2 linked regions of the Homo sapiens genome follow. The protein of the gene in region 1 purifies or fractionates together with the protein of each later gene. This does not show direct contact. Each region holds a gene or a part of one and is shown on either strand. Other genes may lie near its edges. The genes, in order: OR2H2 and LRRC8D.

Evidence for each region.
Region 2: the proteins of OR2H2 (region 1) and LRRC8D purify together in Homo sapiens (affinity purification with mass spectrometry; one large-scale study listed by BioGRID and IntAct). This does not show direct contact.

Annotation. Positions count from the first base shown.
Region 1 is NC_000006.12:29,583,874-29,588,109, forward strand, and holds the start of OR2H2 (olfactory receptor 2H2), read left to right. Parts: upstream 1-1,247; 5' UTR 1,248-1,477; intron 1,478-3,796; 5' UTR 3,797-4,071; coding exon 4,072-4,236. UniProt on the Homo sapiens protein: Odorant receptor.
Region 2 is NC_000001.11:89,819,335-89,823,933, forward strand, and holds the start of LRRC8D (volume-regulated anion channel subunit LRRC8D), read left to right. Parts: upstream 1-1,697; 5' UTR 1,698-1,957; exon of another isoform or gene 1,958-2,460; intron 2,461-2,604; exon of another isoform or gene 2,605-2,851; intron 2,852-4,599. UniProt on the Homo sapiens protein: Non-essential component of the volume-regulated anion channel (VRAC, also named VSOAC channel), an anion channel required to maintain a constant cell volume in response to extracellular or intracellular osmotic changes.

The sequences.
Region 1 (4,236 bases):
AGAAACAAACCCCCGCACCCTTTAAAGGTGGCCTCAATCAGCCATTTCCCTTGAATTGTGATATTGTTCTTGATTCACTGTCTTTGCGGTAAGAGGTGTAGATTCAGGGCTTCCACTTCAATCTGTAGCTCGTACTCCACAGACTAAAGAACTATGTGGGGATTCTGCCAATGGCCAAGCATGTGCATTCCAGTTACAGATTTAGAGACTGCAGAAATGACTACTGGGTAGATCCATGGACCTAGTACATGCCATTTATTAGCTGATCTCATAGGCTCCCTTTCTAATGGAAGAGAAGCATAACGATTCAGTTATATGAAGATTGGCTAAATGTTCTAAGTACTCTCCAAACCCAGAGCTTTATAATTCTCTGTTACTACAGTGTGCTCCATCTCAGAATAACTAAATAGAAAAGGAGGAAGCTGAGAACTTTAAAAACTGAGGTCCTGAATAGATGAATCATAAGCCTGAGAGGACTATCAGGATGCCCGGGACTCACTGGAGGTGGGAGTAGAGACACTGTCCTTTTTCTTCCTGTTGACAGAAAGAAGCAATGAGTGACCTCTTTTACCTACCACAGTGATGACTATTGTTGGCATATTTCCTATAGATATTCCCCTGCCCCTTTTACCATAATTTGTGGCTAATGAATTGTCTGTGGGCTATGGACCCTAGAGTCTCAGCAGAATTAATGAGCTCTTTCCCTCCGTGGGATCCCTCTACCACCATACCATGTCAACATTTCTACCTCCAATGCCACTAAAACAGAGGCACACCTCTGCCTAGACTGAGGGGGAAAATTGTTGGCAAAGAACTCAATGGCAAAGAACTCGATGGCAAAGAACTCGATGGCAAAGAACTCAATGGCAAAGTTCTGACCTTGGCTTCATCCTCCCTGCAGAGATTTGGTGGGCTTTGGTTGGTGCAAACCCTCTACAGTTAGCAGATTTGGGTTCAAACATCAGCTCTGGTGCTTACTAACTATACTGCCTTGGGAAAGTTATTTATATTTCTTTGTTTCAACTTCTTCATATTGGAAGGAAGAGAATAATATGTAGAGTTGTGAAGGATAATCAGCAGTGTAGAGTAAATGTTTAATAAACAACTTGGTTGGTGGCAGATGGGGAGAGCCCTAATTTGTAGTGTTTGCCAATTTTCATAGTGTAAATATTCCTGCCATGGCTGTCTCAAGCCACTGATGGTTTAATAACTGTCTCACAAAATTCCTAAAAATTTACTAATCAAGAGATAATCTGAGCCAGCTCCAGCTCATCACACACATGTGTGCTTAGAAAAGTGCCAGATGGTCAGCATTAGCAATCCCTATTGTGACCAGAGATGCAGTTGCCCATTCAAGGATGCCCATTCCTTTTTATTTTTTTGTTTCTTCCTGATGTACAAGTGGAGGCTGGGCACCAGTTAAGAGCTCTGTCATGGGGAATTGCTGGTACCAGAAGAGATTTTTATTTGATTGAAGGTAAGCAGAACCTTTGCTCTTTGGCTGTGAGATATCAGTTTCCGCCTATCCTCAACACTGGAGGACCAGATTTGGAGTTAAACTTACTCTAAAATCCTAGTCCTAGCACTTATTGACTAGGTAACCTTCTACAAGTCTCTTGTCCCGTCTGTGACTGTTCACTTTTTGGTAAAATTGGGATAATTTTATCTCTTTGTAGGGTCACTGTGAGAACCAGATGTTCAGGGAGTTGTTTATCACCATGCTTTGATGGTAGCTACTAACAGCAAGGGTAGCTCATGGTCACTAGACTATCATAAACCCCTTTCAAAGGACCTCCCAACTCCTTCCCCAGCTCCTAACACAATGCTGGCACTTTGGGGCTCAAGAAATGAATAAATGCGTAGACCAATGCATGAATATTTCAGAAGGAAAAGGAGTAGGAGAAAAATAATGAGAGTGGAAAAGACAGAGAACAAAGAGGGAAAGGGAAACAGTCACTAAGAAAGGTGTAATCTAAAGAGATTCAGCGATATAGCAGAGAAAGGAAAGGAATGAAATGCCAAGATAATGACAAAGTTAGAAATGTAGAAAATTAATTAGGATGACACATGATGGATAAATAAGAAACAATTGGCTATTGTTTAAGGTTACATGCAAAGAATTTTATATTACAAAGAAAACAAAGGAGGGGGCGGCAGCCAATGAGCATGAGGTTTCTTTTGGGAGTAATGAAATATTCTGGAAGTAAATGGTGTTGGTTGCACAACTTGTGAATATACTTTAAACCACTAAATTACACACTTCAAAAGGGCGAATTTTATGGTACGTTAAATACATCTCAAAAAATGAAAGCGAAGGCATAATTAAAAATTTAGAGGCCAGGCACAGTGACTCATGCCTGTAATCCCAGCACTTTGGGAGGCCGAGGCAGGCAGATCACCTGAGGTCAGGAGTCTGAGACCAGCCTGGCCAACATGGCGAAACCCCGTCTCTACTAAAAATACAAAAATTAGCTAGGCATGGTCTTGAGTGCCTGTAATCCCCGCTACTTGGGAGGCTGAGGCAGGAGAATAGCTTGAGCCCAGGAGGTGGAAGTTGCAGTGAGCAGAGATCGTGCCATTGCACTCCAGCCTGGGCTATAAAACGTGACTCTAAAAAAAAAAAAAAAAAAAAAAAATTAGAATGGTGGTGACATCTTGAGGGGTGACAAATTGAGAAAATTGAGAGATCAGGGAGGGGCACACAGAAGCTTCTAAGATACTTGAAACATTTGCTCAGTTCCTTAACCTAGTTGTTTAAATATGTAACAATATTTTGAAAATTAAAAATATATTTTAAGTGAGAAAAGAATAATGGGAAAAACAGGAAGAAGACAGAGACAATGGCAGAGAGTCCTGGCAAAAAGGGAGATGTGATAGAGCTTAATACAAGATGGGGACCCTGTAAGAGGAAGACATTCCTGCCATCCTCTGAGCTCCATGGCACGTTTGTGGTGTGGCCCACCATCTCATCTCCTCCCCTCATGGCCTTCCTAAGGTCCTGTAAGACCCTGAGTCCTTGTCTCTGACCTGCCAGAGTGGCTTCAGTCTCCCACCCCCAGCCCTCAACTGACCTTCTATGCCCCAATACATCTCTATTTTAAGGAAAAAGTCCAGTCACCTCCTCTAGGAAGCTTTCCCTGATATACCCAACCAAATTGGTCAGTCATCCTACAGAACCTTTACTCTCATTCACCCAGTACATTGGTGTTACTGGCCTTTAAATTTTGGACTCTCTTTTTGGTGGTGTCTGAAAGACTACAAGATTTAGGGAGAGTGATTCTTGGAGTCTTTCGATAATGTTCCTGTGAACCCTGGTGATTTTAACATGCTTGTGGCCACTCTTGCCTCCTACTTGTAAGCTACTCATGGCAAGGACGAAGCATGTGGACCAATTTCCACCCCTCCCTGAAAGTCAGTTGGTTCAGAAACTTAGGTTGCTAAAAAGGCCAGGGCAACCAACCTGATCTCTCTATAAGTAGGGATATCTTAAAACAAAACAAAATCTCTCTCATAGATAAAACACTGTCTCTGATAAGCTTACTTGCAAATGAAAAAATACAAAATAAATGGAATGTACAGAGTTCTATAAAATTCATTCAACCAATAGAGCAATAATTGAGCCTACAGAGACAACTTATCAGAAAATTCATTCAATATACCTTACGAGATCATCCAATAGATAAGAGACAACTCTAGAACAGCATTCAGAACATAGTGGCACTCAATAAATTTCCCCTGAATGAATGAATTAATGAATTAGTGCATATTTTAATCAGCCTCCTTTGCCCTCACCCAGGAAGTCAGAGGCACCAGTGTGAGTATCCATCTGCTGTCCAGTACATTCATGGATTCCTCACTCTCACTAGACAATGTTTGACCAGGAAGAACAGGGAATGAGAAGGAGCTGCTGGATGGTGATGAGCCTTGGAAAGGGAGGCTGGGCGAGCAGAGACAGAAGAGAAACACCTACCTGCTGTGACCTCACAAACACCCAGGCTGAGTTTTGATAAGACAGGTTGAATCACACTGGAGTGACAGCCTCATCCCTCCAGGTACAAACAAGAACAGGCCATGGTTAACCAAAGCTCCACACCGGGCTTCCTCCTTCTGGGCTTCTCTGAACACCCAGGGCTGGAAAGGACTCTCTTCGTGGTTGTCCTCACTTCCTACCTCCTAACCCTAGTGGGCAACACACTCATCATCCTGCTGTCTGCGCTGGACCCCAAGCTCCACTCT
Region 2 (4,599 bases), on another chromosome or scaffold:
GCCTCAGGCTCCTGAGTAGCTTGGATTACAGGTGCGTGCCAACATGCCCAGATAATTTTTGTGTCTTTAGTAGAGACGGGTTTTCACCATGTTGGTCAGGCTGGTCTCTAACTCCTGACCTCGTGATCCTCTTGCCTCGGCCTCCCAAGGTACCGGGACTACAGGCGTGAGCCACTGCACCCGGCCTATAATTTTTTTTTTTTTTTACAAACAGCAAAACATTCCATATTCATTATAATAGTGGGCTGTTTTCAATAAAAATATCACACCACTAGTTGTTAAGTTTTAAAAGACCTCTCATCTCTTAGATCAGCAAATCTGACACTGATTAGATCACTTACACACACTCCCTGCCCATACACCTCCTTCTTGGCAGTGTGTGGAACAGGAGTGGCTGCTGGCAAGGAGGGTCGGGGAAGGAAAGTGAGAGCAAAAGGGCCGAGGGCTCAGAATCTGGTGGCATCTTGTAACGGGTCTCGGGCAGTCCCTTGAGTGTATTCTGGACCTCTCTGTTCATGTTCCTGTTTGGGCTGCTCTTCTTCACGTCCAATGCCTGAGGGCCAAGTGCTCACCATCCAAGGGTCAATTCTATCAGCTCCTCTCTGAATCCTTTTCTGAAACCCTGGACAATCATTCTCTTTAATGTCTCACTGTCTCTGAACCGACACCTTCCTGAGTACCTGTAACATTTGTGCAGCATGCTTATTAAGAATATTTAGATGCTGGGTAAACGTTGATTGAACATTTGCTGACATGGAGAGATATTGGTAGAAGACAGATTAGACTTCCGATGGTTTACAGAAACACATGGATTCAGATAAAAGAAGATATGAAAGCACTGGGTTGAACCACATATTTTATTACAACCAAATAACTCCAAATATCCCGCCTTAATTTATTTATTGGCCCCTGCCTCTGCTCACCCACAAAAAAGACTGCAAATGAACCCCGATCCTACAACAACAACAACAAAAAACGGTGACATTATCGGGCTGCAAAACCCTCTTAGCATAGAATAATCTTTTCATCTGCCTCTTTCAGATGTAACATATTTTTGACGAAAAGAATGGGATGAAAACGGCGGGCTCAGATAAAAACAAGAACCGACTTTCCAATACAGCTTCAATAACAGACGGAACACATGAAGCTGAGAAACTCTCCATGCCAAGTAGTAGTTGTGTGTGCCCCAAAGCTCAGATAAGTACTTCTCCTTAGAGTTGGAAGGCACTTAAGTGACTTTTTAACGTAATTCAACTCCCCACCCCCAGCGCCAAGTCTTAATATCAGAGTTTTAGTCGACGGGACAGCCTCCTTCGCCCAGGACGGGTGAAGGCTCCTGACCATGCCTCGCAGCTAACTGGCAGCTGCGCCTGCCCGGCACCGAGCCCTGCCCAGGTGGACGCTTGCGAGAGCATTACGGCGATGGTTATGTAGGCTGCCGTTCTTCCCCTCCCAAGCACCTGCTCCGCATCTAGCAGTCGCTCGCCGCCAGTCTCCAACCCCGGGTCCCCTCCCTCGCCACACAGACCCCGTCCGGTCAGGCGCTGCAGGGCCACCGGAGAAAGCGCTCGCAATCACATGGAGGCCCGGGCCCGCCCCATTGGCTGCGGCCGGGCCAGTCGCGGCACTCGCCGGCTGCGGTTGGTCCCAGAGCTGCAGCGCCTGCACGGGCCCGGAGTCCATGTTACGCTTTGTCTAATTCCCCTCGTTACAGAGTCATGTGCTGCTGCTCCCGTCGCCGCTGCTGCCGCTGCCGCTGCCGCCGCCCGTGGTGCCCCGGCTCCTCCGCCGCGCTTCGAGGTGGCAGCCGCGGGCGGGGCCGCGGGAGCAGGGTCCAGGGTGCAGCGCGCCTTCGCCGCCCCGGCGCGTCCCGGTGCAGCCGCCGCCCGCCGCGGGTGATGCCGCCACCTCCGGCCTCAGCATAAGCCGTGGCTTGGCGGCCGAGCTGCACCCCAAGGTTGGTGCGCACCTCTCCCGGCAGGGGCCGGGGGCTGCGAGGGAAGGCGACGCGCAGGTGGAGCCGCGCCGAGCCGGAGCGCGCAACCCTGGCGCAGGCGCCGCGGCCCGAGCTGCGGTTGCGGCCGGGAACTCATTCGGGGACGTCCGGGGGTCGGGAGGAGGTGGCGGCGAGCGGAGTGGGCTCCCGTTTGCTGCCGCCAGGGCCTGGGAGATTGTTCCGCTTTCTGCAGTCTGAGCGTCGGCCGCTTCGGCCCCGGGCGGCCGGCCCTGCGGGAGGGGAGTGCGGCTTCCTGGCTCCTGAACCCCTCGCGCGCGCTCCCTTCTCTCACCTCCCTCCGCCCTATCGGAAAGGCGGGGAGAGCCGGTTTCGGCTCTGCTGGTTCCTCCCGGAGGTGGGTGTTTGGTGTCTGGCCTTGCTGGCCCGGCGTCCAAAGGTGAGCCCTTTAACTTCTCCAGAATCGCCTCCCCTCCGCTTCCTTCCTGTGCAGGGTGGGCTGCGCTGGGAGCCCGGCGGGCGGGGGCGGGGAGGTGAAGGCCCGCGCCCCGCCCCCCGCGCCTGTGGGAGGGAGCTGGGGGCCCGCAGGTGCACCCAGCCGTCCGCGGGCCGTCTCCGGGTTGGGTACCGGTATAATCCGCTTCTAGCTTGTTTGGAGGCGTGGGCTCTTGGGAGCGGGACTTCTGCTCAAATCCTGTCCAGGGGCTTGAAAAGGAGGAGAATTGGGGGTGGTTGCCGGGAGGACCAGCACCTCCAGTTACTGGAGGGTTGATAGGGGCCTTCTCCTTTCCGTCACCCTTTACTAGGGGGTATCCCTTGCAGATAAATGAGATTTTTTGATTTCTTAAAAAGCCAGCTGCAGTGAAGAAGAACTGCTGCAGGTCGAGGGGAAGAGAGGTAGGTCCTTGCTGGAGAGGGAGAGGTGGGCTGTGAGGTTCCAGGAGCACGCACTTGGGGTGTGTGTGGCCGAAAGTATGGAGGTAGGGTTGTGGGAAGGAAACAGCCGAGATGAGAGGGAGGGCGCACTCAGGATGTAGGCGGAGAGATGGGGAATAGGTACTGGGGAGTCCTAGCGGAATGTGGGGCCCAGCTGGAGCCGCTTGGCTTATATTTGGCTCCTCGTTGCCTCGCAGATTTCCTGCTCTTGGATCTTCAAAAATATTTTTTTGTTGGACAAAGAAAACTCTGAGGACATATTTTGGAAGAGCTGATTTCTGGAAACTTTCCTTGGCAGCTTTGATAGTAAAATTCCGTACAGGCAGCGTTTATTGAGCACCTATTACGTGGTTTGTACCGGACTTTGGAAGAGTCTGGACAGGCAGGGAATCCCCGTTTGCAGTAATGATGAGGGCTGTCTACCTTATAAACAAATAAGGGGCCCCTCCCAGTGCCAAGAATGAGAGTGATCAGACCTTCCTCGCCATAGCATCTGGGACCTCTGCTTCTTACAGACCTGTGGGAAGAACCCTGCACCATATCCTGTAAATGGGGTCCTCAGGCAGCATTTATTTTTGCAGTCCAAAAATAGTGACCAAACACCTACTGTCAGCTAGGCGAGAGTTGGGGTTCTTGCTTCATCTGTCTTGACACCAACTAACTAAATCCCTGTTAAAATCCAAGTGCAAGATGGGGAGGAATCTGAGATGAAAATTAGGTGGTTAAAACAGGGGTCACGAAAAGTTGATTTGGGGTGTTTGGTCTCTGTAGGTTACTTATGGAGCCCCCCATAAAATGATTAGGTAATCTATGGAGCCAGGGAAAAATTCCAAAATCTTGAATTGGCACAGTTTATTTATATATTTGAACACTATGTTAGATTTGTCTCGTTTTTATTGAGAGTGTATGTGTGCGTGTTGATTAAAACCTAACAGATTAGAAGGTTGGAGAGGAAACTGTCCTTAGATGACCCAGCCTTCCATTACCATGTGGAGTAGCATATGATGCAACACTTAAAGTATTGAGCCATATTCATATCATTTTCTCCCTGCTGTGTTTTCCAGCATTTAAAAAACATGGTCAAAACTTGGCCCTTTTTTTCTCAAAATCGCTAAAGTTTAATGGAAAGAAAAAAGAAAAAAACTAGGCCCCTTTTCCCTTAATTTTTATATTATGCAGCATTTTTAAAAATTAATTTTAGAAAATTCTGATGTGTTTGTCATGTCCAAATAGTTAAATTGTTTTGGTAGCTATAGTTTGGAAATTAGACTCGATTCTGTTCTCAGTACTGTAGACAAAATAGCTATTAAAGTCAAAAGTTTGTCAAAACTTTGTAATCATGATTATTATGTTGTTGAAGTGGTAGCTTGTAAGAGATTTCAGTTATTTTTAATTGGAGCTGGTGTTTGACATTCTAAGAAACACCAGTTAATATTTGTTGAGTGCCAGCAGGAAGCAGAGAACTGGAGTGGGTGCTGTGGGATCTTAACAAGGCAGGAGAGGATTCTCGTAGTAATCACAGAGAGCAGATAAGACAGGCACACATGAGGATGCCAGCAGAAGCAGACAGTTACAGTTGTCTAAGAATCCAGGGTGTGTGGAACCAGATAAAAGTTTATGAAGTATGCTGAGGGAGGAGTGGAAATCTGAATTGACTTTTGACAGTGGTCAGGGATGTGGAACAGAATATACGACTAATAAAGGAGGGT